Homo sapiens: one gene and its partners. The protein of the gene in region 1 interacts with the protein of each later gene in a biochemical or structural test. Each region holds a gene or a part of one and is shown in the gene's direction. Other genes may lie near its edges.

The links. The genes of interacting proteins can lie anywhere in the genome.
Region 2: of the proteins of PA2G4 (region 1) and PRKN, one has a biochemical effect on the other in vitro, tested with the Homo sapiens proteins (one study listed by BioGRID).
Region 3: the proteins of PA2G4 (region 1) and NPM1 form a complex in vitro, tested with the Homo sapiens proteins (one study listed by BioGRID).
Region 4: the proteins of PA2G4 (region 1) and EIF2AK2 form a complex in vitro, tested with the Homo sapiens proteins (one study listed by BioGRID).

Annotation. Positions count from the first base shown.
Region 1 is NC_000012.12:56,110,985-56,114,410, forward strand, and holds the end of PA2G4 (proliferation-associated protein 2G4), read left to right. Parts: coding exon 1-74; intron 75-197; coding exon 198-325; intron 326-491; coding exon 492-545; intron 546-1,838; coding exon 1,839-1,904; 3' UTR 1,905-2,926; downstream 2,927-3,426. UniProt on the Homo sapiens protein: May play a role in a ERBB3-regulated signal transduction pathway. Seems be involved in growth regulation. Acts a corepressor of the androgen receptor (AR) and is regulated by the ERBB3 ligand neuregulin-1/heregulin (HRG).
Region 2 is NC_000006.12:161,349,842-161,352,766, reverse strand, and holds part of PRKN (E3 ubiquitin-protein ligase parkin), read left to right. Parts: intron 1-2,555; coding exon 2,556-2,668; 3' UTR 2,669-2,925. UniProt on the Homo sapiens protein: Functions within a multiprotein E3 ubiquitin ligase complex, catalyzing the covalent attachment of ubiquitin moieties onto substrate proteins. Substrates include SYT11 and VDAC1.
Region 3 is NC_000005.10:171,401,349-171,404,848, forward strand, and holds part of NPM1 (nucleophosmin), read left to right. Parts: intron 1-3,500. UniProt on the Homo sapiens protein: Involved in diverse cellular processes such as ribosome biogenesis, centrosome duplication, protein chaperoning, histone assembly, cell proliferation, and regulation of tumor suppressors p53/TP53 and ARF.
Region 4 is NC_000002.12:37,098,710-37,101,845, reverse strand, and holds the end of EIF2AK2 (interferon-induced, double-stranded RNA-activated protein kinase), read left to right. Parts: 3' UTR 1-2,636; downstream 2,637-3,136.

The DNA of each region.
Region 1 (3,426 bases):
GGCTCGGATGGGTGTGGTGGAGTGCGCCAAACATGAACTGCTGCAACCATTTAATGTTCTCTATGAGAAGGAGGGTGAGTTCCAAAAAGAGCTTCACTTTGGATTCCCTGATTATAAGATATCCTTCCTGTAAGTTCAGAAGAGCTAAGTATGACAAAGGAACTTTTTATCAAAACACATCTTCATTTTTGCCATAGGTGAATTTGTTGCCCAGTTTAAATTTACAGTTCTGCTCATGCCCAATGGCCCCATGCGGATAACCAGTGGTCCCTTCGAGCCTGACCTCTACAAGTCTGAGATGGAGGTCCAGGATGCAGAGCTAAAGGTTAGTATGGAATAGAAGGTGGTGAGTATGTACATGGTATCCTGCTTGGGAGTGAGGGCTAAATGCCAGCAAAGTCCTGAAAAGAGCTGCAGTACTGAAAGTAACCCTTTATTTTTAATTTCCTCCACATTTCTCAAAATTTTTTTCCCTTCTTCCTGTTTTCCAGGCCCTCCTCCAGAGTTCTGCAAGTCGAAAAACCCAGAAAAAGAAAAAAAAGAAGGTGTGTTATTAACGATCATTCCTCTCTGGCAGGGTGAACCTGATCCCTCTTTCTCCCACTGTGTTAAGTTGTAGTGAAATACGGATTTTTATACAGATGCTCCTCAACTTATATGATAGAACTTTGTCCCAGTAAACCCATCATAAATTGAAAATACTGTAAGTCAAAATGGATTTTAAAATATATATATATATATTTTAAGAGACAGAGTCTCAAACTCCTGGCCTTGAACAGTCCTTCCACCTCAGCCTCCCAAACTGTTGGGATTACAGGCATGAGCTGCCATGCCCAGCCTTGCTTTGGCCGGGCACAGTGGCTCATGCCTGTAATCCCAGCACTTTGGGAGGCTAAGGCGGATGGATCACCTGAGGTCAGGAGTTTGAGATCAGCCTGACCAACACAGAGAGAAACCCCGTCTCTACTAAAAATACAAAATTAGCTGGGTGTGGTGGCACACGCTTATAATCCCAGCTACTCGGGAGGCTAAGGCAGGAGAATTGTTTGAATCTGGGAGGCAGAGGTTGCAGTGGGCCGAGATCGCACCATTGCGCTCCGGCCTGCGCAACAAGAGCGAAACTCTGTCTCCAAAAAAGAGATGATCTCACTGTGTCACCCAGGCTGACGTGTAGAGGCATGATCATAGCTCACTGTATCCTCAAACTCCTCCTGGGTTCAAGTGATTGTCCTGCCTTGACCTGCTGAGTAGCCACCACCATGCCTGGCTCAAAATGGATTTGATGTACCTTAACCTACCATGAACCTCATAGCTTAGCCTGGCCTACCTTGAATGTGCTCAAAACATTTATTGAACAAATTATCATGTATCGAAATATCCATATTGCTTTCACGCCATTGTGAAGTTGAAAAATCACAAGTTGACCATTGTAAGTCAGAGACCTGTATGTCTTTATTTCAGCTGTGACCCAGAGGATTGAGATAACTTTATGGCTGGGTGTGGTGGTTCACACATATAATCCCAACAGTTTGGGAGGCCTAGGCAGGAGCATCACTTGAGCCCAGGAGTTCAAGATCAGCCCGGGCAACATGGTGAAACCTCATCTCTACAAAAAATACAAAAAAGTTGTACATGGTGGCATATGCCTATAGTCCCAGCTACCTGGGAGGCTGAGGTGAGAGGATCACCTGAGCCCAGGGAAGTGGTACCACTGCACTCCAGCCTGGAAAACAGAGTGAGACTGTCTCAGAAAAAAAAATACTTTTATCTCTGGTCCCAGACATCCCCAAGTAGTTAGAAACTGACAGGTCTTCTCCCTCTCCTTTTCTTGCATATAGGCCTCCAAGACTGCAGAGAATGCCACCAGTGGGGAAACATTAGAAGAAAATGAAGCTGGGGACTGAGGTGGGTCCCATCTCCCCAGCTTGCTGCTCCTGCCTCATCCCCTTCCCACCAAACCCCAGACTCTGTGAAGTGCAGTTCTTCTCCACCTAGGACCGCCAGCAGAGCGGGGGGATCTCCCTGCCCCCACCCCAGTTCCCCAACCCACTCCCTTCCAACAACAACCAGCTCCAACTGACTCTGGTCTTGGGAGGTGAGGCTTCCCAACCACGGAAGACTACTTTAAATGAAAAAAAGAAATTGAATAATAAAATCAGGAGTCAAAATTCATCGTCTTCAAGCCCCTCTTTCTAGCCTTTTCTACTACTCTCTGCTTGGTCAAGGTTTGTGCCCCACTACAGAACAGGGCTAAATTAGCCACCACCACTGAAAACTCAGCCGAATTTTTTTATACCACTCTGATGTCAGCATTTTTTCCATCTGTTTGGGGCTTTTTCCTCTTTTTTCCATTCTCCCCAAATATTTTATCTGGCTTCAAAATTAAGAGGATTATTTTTCAGATTGTTTTTATTCAGTGTGGCCGATTCCTCATCTGATTCAGGCTGTCCAGTCAGGCCCCTCCCATTTTAGGAGCTGGAGCCTTCATTTATGAAGAGATTCTCATCTATGAAATGGATCCTCATTTGTAAATCTTTTTTCTTCCATTTTCACAAAGCTGTAAAGAAATAATCCATCTCAACCTTACCCTTTTTCTCTGGAGTCAGTGGGGTCTTTCCTCGCTCCATCTTACACAGACCTGAGCTGGAAGCTCAACTGGTTTTGTTCCCTGTTTGAAATATTGTGATCTCCCTCCCATGAAAGAAAAACCAAGAACCAGAGGCGTAGACTGACTGAAGACACAACTCCTGGCTTTCTGAAGCTATGGACTTGGATTGGATTGCTGGGGGTTTGTAGAGAAAGGTGACAAATTTCAGTACCTCTGGCATGCTGTCCCAGGAAACTAGGGCTCCCACTAACTTATGAGGTTTTTAAACACATTGAAAATGACATGACATTAAAATAAATTTGGATTTGCTCATAATGATGTGCTTTGTATGCTGCTCTTGTTTGATGGAGGTGGGGAGAATGTCAGTTGAAGTGGTATTGGAACTGTTCCTCCACAGTGCCATGCTCTACCTTCCCAAAACGAGGAATGTCTTGACTTGCAGAAGACACAAATCTTAGAATCTTTGATGATATAGTAATCTGCTGGAGTTGGGTGGTGTAATTTTCTAAGTAGAAACAGTCCTCACTGCTAAGATTTGTTTGGGGCTAGGACACAATGTCTACTGCAAAAACAGTACTGCAAGTGTTTATCTTGAATTCAAGAAGCCAGGAAGAATGGTACACTAGTTTTCAGGGCCAGACTAAGGTCAGATGGGTAATTAGTTTATCTTACTACATGTCAGGAATTGCTAAACTAGAGATACTACAAGTGAACAGAACTGAACACAGGTCAAATGTGTAATGATGTATATCTACCATTAAAATAGAGTAGTTTTAGTGCCCTAAAAATCCTCTGTGTTTTGCCTGTTCATCTCTCTC
Region 2 (2,925 bases), on another chromosome or scaffold:
ATATATATATACACACACACACACACACACACACACACACTCTTCATACATATTTGTGTTTATATATGCTTATATATATTAAATATCACAATAGGAAAGTTTCTTACCCTTTCATTTAGAATTGCTTTAATAGTTCATTAAGTTTTAATGTATTGCTCAATAATTTTGATTGAATATATTTTACGATACATGATATAATAATGATATATTTATGATATGATAAAATATTTATGATATTTTAGAGAAACAAGTGGTTTTATAATGTCACACCATATAACATATTATTTACATCATAAATATACAACCATGCAATATGTGCTGAAAATGGCACAAACCTAAGTGGAAAGTATGAAGATAAAAGTGTTGTAAGTTTTCTCCTTTATTTTCCACAGATCTGTAATTTATGATCTTTAAAACAAGCCAGAAAGGATTAGGAAAACAGGAGATTTTGCATGTCGGCAAGTTATCTTAAAACAAATGCCTATTCCTATATATTCATAAATATTTTAAATTAGTGAAAGTTCTCATGCCAGGTTTCTAATAATAAAAGTGAGACAGCACCGAACCAATTACTTGGAAAATTTGGCAGGAAAAATCAATTAACAAGATAATTGGTAAGAGTGAGTAATGGAGCACCTTCAACGCTAGGTGGGATTCAAGCAAAGAAACTGCGTTTGCCGGGGTTTTCCAGGAAATTTGGACAGAAACAGTTCTCTGTACATCCTCATACAAATCACTTCCTCCTCCCTTCAGTTCCCCCACAGCGACTGAAGCAGGGCTGTGTGCACTCCAGAAACTCATGGAGTCTATGTTTAACAAGTGAGGGAGGTGAATAATTCCAAAATAAGTTCCAAGATAAGGGACTTTTCCTCTTATGCTGAAAATAACCTGTTCTGTGAATGACAGGACATTGGAATCACACAGACCTTGGTGAGATCATTGTCTTCACCATTTAAAAGTGCTTCACCTTGGGGAAATTCTATAGCAGAGTGATGCTCTTATCTCAAAGTGCTTTGGGAAGCAAATGAGATAATATACATAGAACACCTAGCATTATTAATTACTTCCTTTCTATCCCTCTCATCTTAATTAAAATTTTGGATAGCATTAAGGAACATATTCCCTATTAAAAATAATATGCTGGCTGGGTGCGGTAGCTCACGCCTGTAATCCCAGCACTTTGGGAGGCCGAGGCGGGAGGATGACTTGAGGTCAGGAGTTTGAGACCAGCCTGGCCAACATGGCAAAACCCTGTCTCTACGAAAAATTCAAAAATTAGCTGGGCATGTTGGTGGGCGCCTGTAATCCCAGCTACTCGGGAGGCTGAGGCCAGAGAATCACTTGAACCTGGGAGGTGGGGGTTGCAGTGAGCCAAGATCTCGCCACTGCACTCCAGCCTGGACGACAAGAGCAAAACTCCATCTCAAAAAAAAAAATAGAAATAATAATAATTACAATATGCTATCCCAGTTCCTGTTTTATGAATTTGGCCAAGCCAAGTAAGTGGCACTATAGAAAGAGCAAAAATAAATCAAAATATATTTAAATTATTATACATTATATTAGGTTATATCATCAAATTTTATCAATATATTTAAATATAAATATATTTATATATATTTTAAATATAAATATATAAAAATATATTTATATATATTTTAAATATAAATATATAAAAATATATTTATATATATTTTAAATATAAATATATAAAATATATTTATATATATTTTAAATATAAATATATAAAATATATTTATATATATTTTAAATATAAATATATAAAATATATTTATATATATTTTAAATATAAATATATAAAATATATTTATATATATTTTAAATATAAATATATAAAATATATTTATATATATTTTAAATATAAATATATAAAAATATATATATTTTAAATATAAATATATAAAAATATATATATTTTAAATATAAATATATAAAAATATATATATTTTAAATATAAATATATAAAAATATATATATTTTAAATATAAATATATAAAAATATATATATTTTAAATATAAATATATAAAAATATATATATTTTAAATATAAATATATAAAAATATATATATTTTAAATATAAATATATAAAAATATATATATTTTAAATATAAATATATAAAAATATATATATTTTAAATATAAATATATAAAAATATATTTATATATTTTAAATATAAATATATTAATATTTGAATATATTTAAATGAGGAATTGACCCCTATCTATGAAACATGAAGTGTTTGTCTCTAAATCCCCTTTCAGGAGAATAAAGTCAGATTTACAAATAAAATTTGTTCCCGACAAAAGTGACATGCTTCAATTTCATTCATTTCTTAATGAATATCATCACTTTAGAGCTGCCCTATTGTGCTTTATGAAGTTTTTCCCCTCAGTTAAGTTTCTCTCTGCCCTTGTATTGCTTGTGATTATTCGCTCAGAAAGTGATGTCTAGGCTAGCGTGCTGGTTTGGGAATGCGTGTTTTCCAGGTACTTGCTGCGAACCCACCACACCTTTGTTTTCTGCCCCCAACAGGAGGCTGCATGCACATGAAGTGTCCGCAGCCCCAGTGCAGGCTCGAGTGGTGCTGGAACTGTGGCTGCGAGTGGAACCGCGTCTGCATGGGGGACCACTGGTTCGACGTGTAGCCAGGGCGGCCGGGCGCCCCATCGCCACATCCTGGGGGAGCATACCCAGTGTCTACCTTCATTTTCTAATTCTCTTTTCAAACACACACACACACGCGCGCGCGCGCACACACACTCTTCAAGTTTTTTTCAAAGTCCAACTACAGCCAAATTGCAGAAGAAACTCCTGGATCCCTTTCACTATGTCCATGAAAAACAGCAGAGTAAAATTACAGAAGAAGCTCCTGAATCCCTTTCAGTTTGTCCACACAAGACAG
Region 3 (3,500 bases), on another chromosome or scaffold:
TCCAAAAAAAAAAATCAGCTTGTTGTGTGTTGTAGGTACACACACACACACAAACATACTAAATGTAAGGTGGTGGGGCGGGGGGAGCCAATAGACTTTTTTGAAAGAGATGGACCCTCACTTTGTCACTCAGTCTGGGTTAGAGTTGCGTGATCTCGGCTTACTGCAACCTTCACTTCCCGGGTTCAAGCGATTCTCCTGCCTCAGCTTCCCAAGTAGCTGGGACTACATGCGCGTGCCACCAGGCCCAGCGTATTTTTGTATTTTTGAGTAGAGATGGGGTTTCACTCTATATGTTGGCCAGGCTGGTCTCAAACCCCTGACTGCAGGTGATCCGCCCTCCTGGGCCTCTCAAAGTGTGTGAGCCACCACGCCTGGCCTGAATTTTTTGTGATTGTGAAGTCAATAGTTGTTTCCTGTAAGGAATCTTTGTTGAAAGGTATGTCTGCATAGAGTAGAAGTTCTCAACCTTGGCTGCATGTTAGCTTGAAGTAGAACATTTGGGCCTAGACAGGGTGTATTGATCTCATTCCTGACCCTACCCACTTCCCTGCAGAAAATGGAATTTAAAGGAAAAAAAGTTTAAAGGAACCCCAGTACTTGTGCTCTACTTATGGAGATTGTCATAAAAATGGTCTGGGGTGGGCGCCAGGCATCAGACTACAGTGACTTTCTTGCTTTATTCTTAGGGATTTTCTGATTTCCTTTTTTTTTTTTTTTTAACCTGATGAAATAGTTTATTTACAATTTAAACGAATAAATTTCATATTCTACAACACATATAATCTATTGACTAAATGTAACTAATGATGAACCTCCATACAAACAACCCCACTAAAAAGTGGGCAAAGGACATAAACAGACACTTTTCAAAAGACATACAAGTGGCCAAAAAGCATATGAAAAACAGCTCAATATCACTGATTAGAGAAATGCAAATCGAAACCACAATGAGATACCATCTCACACCAGTCAGAATAGCTATTATTAAAAACTCAAAAAACAACAGCTGCTGGCAAGGTTGCAGAAAAAAGGGAATGCTTACACACTCTTGGTGGGAGTGTAAATTAGTTCAACCATTGTGGAAAGCAGAGTGGCGATTCCTCAAAGAGCTAAAAACAGAACTACCATTTGACCCAGCAATCCCATTACATTCCCAAAGGAATATAAATCATTCTACCATAAAGATACATGCACACAAATATTCACTGCAGCACTATTCACAATAGCAAAGACATGGAATCAACCTAATACCTGATATGGTCTGGCTTTGTGTCCCCACCCACATCTCATCTCAAATTGTAATCCCCACGTGTTGGAAGAGGGGCCTGGTGGGAGGTAATTGGATCATGGGGTAGATTTCCCTCTTGCTGTTCTGTTGATAGTGAATTCTCATGAGATCTGGTTGTTTGAAAGTGTGTAGCACCTCCCCCTTTGTGCTCTCTCTCTTCTGCTGCCATGTAAGATGTGCCTTGCTTCCCCTTTGCCTTCTGCCATGATTGTAAATTTCCTGTGGCCTCCTAGCCATGCTTCCTATACAGCCTACAGCACTGTAAGTCAATTAAACCTCTTTTCTTCATAAATTACCCAATCTCAGGTAGTTCTTTTTTTTTTTTTTCATTTTATTTATTTATTTATTTATTTTTTATTTTTATTTTTTTTTTAATTTATTTTTTTATTGATAATTCTTGGGTGTTTCTCACAGAGGGGGATTTGGCAGGGTCATGGGACAATAGTGGAGGGAAGGTCAGCAGATAAACAAGTGAACAAAGGTCTCTGGTTTTCCTAGGCAGAGGACCCTGCGGCCTTCCGCAGTGTTTGTGTACCTGATTACTTGAGATTAGGGATTGGTGATGACTCTTAACGAGCATGCTGCCTTCAAGCATCTGTTTAACAAAGCACATCTTGCACCGCCCTTAATCCATTTAACCCTGAGTGGACACAGCACATGTTTCAGAGAGCACAGGGTTGGGGGTAAGGTCACAGATCAACAGGATCCCAAGGCAGAGGAATTTTTCTTAGTGCAGAACAAAATGAAAAGTCTCCCATGTCTACTTCTTTCTACACAGACACGGCAACCATCCGATTTCTCAATCTTTTCCCCACCTTTCCTGCCTTTCTATTCCACAAAGCTGCCATCGTCATCCTGGCCCGTTCTCAATGAGCTGTTGGGCACACCTCCCAGACGGGGTGGTGGCCGGGCAGAGGGGCTCCTCACTTCCCAGTAGGGGCGGCTGGGCAGAGGCGCCCCTCACCTCCCGGACGGGGCGGCTGGCCGGGCAGGGGGGCTGACCCCCCCCACCTCCCTCCCGGACGGGGCGGCTGGCCAGGCGGGGGGCTGACCCCCCCACCTCCCTCCCGGACAGGGCGGCCGGCCGGGCGGGGGGCTGACCCCCCCACCTCCCTCCCGGACGGGGCGGCTGGCCGGGCAGAGGGGCTCCTCACTTCCCAGTAGGGGCGGCCGGGCAGAGGCGCCCCTCACCTCCCAGACGGGGCGGCTGGCCGGGCGGAGGGCTGACCCCCCCACCTCCCTCCCGGACGGGGCGGCCGGCCAGGCGGGGGGCTTACCCCCCCACCTCCCTCCCGGACGGGGCGGCTGGCCGGGTGGGGGGGCTGACCCCCCCATCTCCCGGACGGGGTGGCTGGCCGGGCTGAGGGGCTCCTCACTTCCCAGTAGGGGCGGCCGGGCAGAGGCAACCCTCACCTCCCGGACGGGGCGGCTGGCCGGGCGGGGGGCTGACCCCCCCACCTCCCTCCCGGACGGCACGGCTGGCCAGGTGGGGGGCTGACCCCCCCACCTCCCTCCCGGATGGCACGGCTGGCCGGTCGGGGGGGCTGACCCCCCACCTCCCTCCCAGATAGGGCGGCTGGCCGGGCGGGGGGTTGACCCCCCCCCACCTCCCTCCCGGACGGGGTGGCTGCTGGGCGGAGATGCTCCTCACTTCCCAGATGGGGTGGCTGCCGGGCGGAGAGGCTCCTCACTTCTCAGACGGGGCAGCTGCCGGGCGGAGGGGCTCCTCACTTCTCAGACGGGGTGGTTGCCAGGCAGAGGGTCTCCTCACTTCTCAGACGGGGCGGCCAGGCAGAGACGCTCCTCACCTCCCAGACGGGGTCTCGGCCGGGCAGAGGCGCTCCTCACATCCCAGATGGGGCGGCGGGGCAGAGGCGCTCCCCACATCTCAGACGATGGGCGGCCGGGCAGAGACGCTCCTCACTTCCTAGATGTGATGGCGGCTGGGAAGAGGCGCTCCTCACTTCCTAGATGGGATGGCGGCCGGGCGGAGACGCTCCTCACTTTCCAGACTGGGCAGCCAGGCAGAGGGGCTCCTCACATTCCAGACGATGGGCGGCCAGGCAGAGACACTCCTCACTTCCCAGACGGGGTGGCGGCCGGGCAGAGGCTGCAATCTCGGCACTTTGGGAGGCCAAGGCAGGCGGCTGGGAGGTGTAGGTTGTAGTGAGCCGAGATCACGCCACTGCACTCCAGCCTGGGCACCATT
Region 4 (3,136 bases), on another chromosome or scaffold:
TGACAAGATTTCCTTAATTATCATATAATAGTCTGTATTGTTTCTATCTCAAAAATACAGTTTTCTTGGTTGTTGAAATCTAGATCCAACATTGCATTTGGTTGATGTGTCTCCTTTACTCTGTAAAATTTACCCCTGCGTTTTAGTTCTTTTCGGCTTTTATTTGTCCTGTGGAATTTCCTCCACTCAGGATTTGACTGAGAGTATCCCCAGAGTGTCCAGTTAGACCTAGAAGCTGGATTTGATCCTGGTTCATTTATTTTCCCCCAAGAATACTCCATAGGTGATGCTATACACTTTCTCTTACATCATTTCAGGAGGAACATGATGTCTGATTGTTCCACTTTCAGTGATTTTAATATTGATCAATGAGTTCTGGTGGTACCAACTACTACAAAGTTTCTCATCAATCTTTCACCTGATGGTTTTAGCAGCTATTGATAATTGTTGCCTGGATCCATTATTTCATTTCAGGGGTTGTAAAATAGTGATTTTCTGGTTCTATCAAACCTCTTGCATTTATCATCTATGATTCTTCTTTAAGGAACTTTCTCTAAATCTGAATGGGAAAGATGCGATAAATATTTATCAAATTTTAGAGTGAGTTAGTGCCCTAGCAACCTCCACAGTTGACAAATGAGTATTTCTTTAAAGCAAGGTATGGCCCAACCAATACTTTGAAACTAGCATGTTTAGAATAGAGCAGGAGGAAACTATATTTGAAAGGTCAGAAGTGGAAAGACTAAGAGGGCCTGAACAATAAGAGGACAGAACCAAGAGGAGTTGGCAACTAATTGGATGTGGGGATTAAGGAAAGGTAAGCATCAAAGATTACCTCCAAGTTTGTTAGAAGGTTAGTAGCAGGATTCTGATGCCATTCAAGTAAATACAAGTCTCAGTCAGATGAACCCCAAGAGCCACATGTATTTGAGGGGTACTTTGTCTCACACTTTTACCTGTTACATGGTTTTCAGTAATTTAGAATTTAAGCCAGTAGTGGGGCGACTGTACATCTATCGACATGGTGAGGTAGAGCATGTTTGGGAGGAAAGACGTTGAATCCCATTTGGTGACAGTGAGCTTGAGGTGCTGCCAGAACACTGCACTGAAGATAGGAGGAGACTGTAGGAAATACAAGATAGGAAAGGTCTCCACTGAAATGTTAACTCTTTCTCTCTAAACGGCCATCCAGGCCTCAATGTCTGCAGTTTCTGATCTGTGATTATGACTTATCCAAATCTTACATTTCTTAAAAATAGTCATAGATGAAGGGAATCACAGTTGATAGTTATATGGTGACATTATTGGCTTAAATTCTAAATAACTAGAAACTGTATAATAGGCAAAACTGTGAGGCAAATAAAATGCTTCTCAAATCTGTGTGGCTCTTATGGGGTTAATTTGATTTGGACCTGTATTAATTTCTTATGGCTGCTATAACTAACAAATTACCACAAACTTGGTGGTTTAAAACAACACACATTTATTCTCTTTCTGTTCTGGAGGCCAGAAGTCTAAAATGAGATTCACTGGGCTGCAGTTCACTGGGCAAGGCCATGCTCCTCTGGAGGCTTCCATGATGCATCCCATATTCAGTGTTTCCCGAGTAAGCCCCACCCATGCAGGTCTGCAGTTTTACCTCAACAGGCTTTTGCACTCAGTGGCTCTCTCCTGTGGTTTCTATCTGAAATTCTCTTCATTTTTTTTTTAATAACTGCTTTATTGAGATATAATTCACATGCCATACAATTCACCTATACAGTATACAATTCAGTAGTGTTTACTATATTCAGAGTTGTGCAACTATCATTTTTCTCACCCCCAAAAGAAACCCTATGCCCGTTAGTATTCACTCTGTTTTCTCACAACTCTAGGTAACCACTAATCTACTCTCCATCTCTATAGATTTGCCCATGCTAGACATTTCATATAAATGGAATCATACATGTGGTCTTTTTCACTGAGTATATTTTCAAGGTGCATCCCAGCTGTGGCATGAATCAGCATCTCATTCCTTTTTATTGCCAAATAATATTCTATCATATGGATATGTCGCATTTTATGTATCCATTCATCAGCTGATGGACATTTGGGTTGTTTGTACTTTTTGGCTACCATGAATAATGCTACTATGAACTTTTGTGTACAAATCTTATGTGGACTTGTTTTCATTTCTCTTGGATGTATATTCCTAGGAGAATGGCTGGATTATACAGTAACTCTTTCCTCATAACTTTGCATATCAAAATTATATCCATCTTTCAGAACCCAAATTCAGTGTTATTTCCAAAGTGTTCCAACATCTCCCACTCAAAATGAATCTTCTCCCTAGTACTCCCATTGTTTAGTACCTAATTGTTCTTACCAGTTTGTCTTAGAGCTCAGTCATTCCTACACAGCACTTTTCTTCATTATACTGCTAATTTCATTACACTGTAAGAGTGGGGACAAGCTGTTCTTCTTGTATACCAGAAAGTAGTGAGTGCACTGCTGTGAAGAAAGCAGGAACTCAAAAGTTAAGAATTTTGAATGAGCCTATAAAATGTGTCTAATAAATAATAATGTTCATTTTCAAATCTCAACAATTAAATGTTTAACAAATAACACTTGAAATAAATGTTTATTAGAAAAACCAATTTGGTATGTTAAAGTATTTATTTTGAATTTCAGAAACTACAGAATTCTGGATTTTTAATTAAGAAAATTAGACATTTTAGAATTTCTAGATAGGACTTTGAAAATAAACATGGCACAATATACACAAAAGTAAATGACAACATGACATTAAATTTTACATTGTTTTGCAGTTTCAAATTTCGTATTAATGTTCTACAACAAATTTTAAAATTCTTTTCAGTGTTTTGCTTCCCTTGGTGTTCATTATTGCCTATTTATAAAGTCATAAAAGGCCTAAAAATAACTTGTTACTCATATTGAAAGTCTGATTTTTTTTTTATTCCCTTAAGATGGAGGTCTCTCACTATGTTGCCCAGGCTGGTTTCAAACTTCTGGGCTCAAAGGATTCCCCATCTCAGCCCCCTGAGTAGCTGGGACCAAAGGCATGCACCACTGCACCCGGCTGAAAGCCTGTATTTTTATCTTTCGATGGACAACAGAGGGATATCTCCCACTCTCT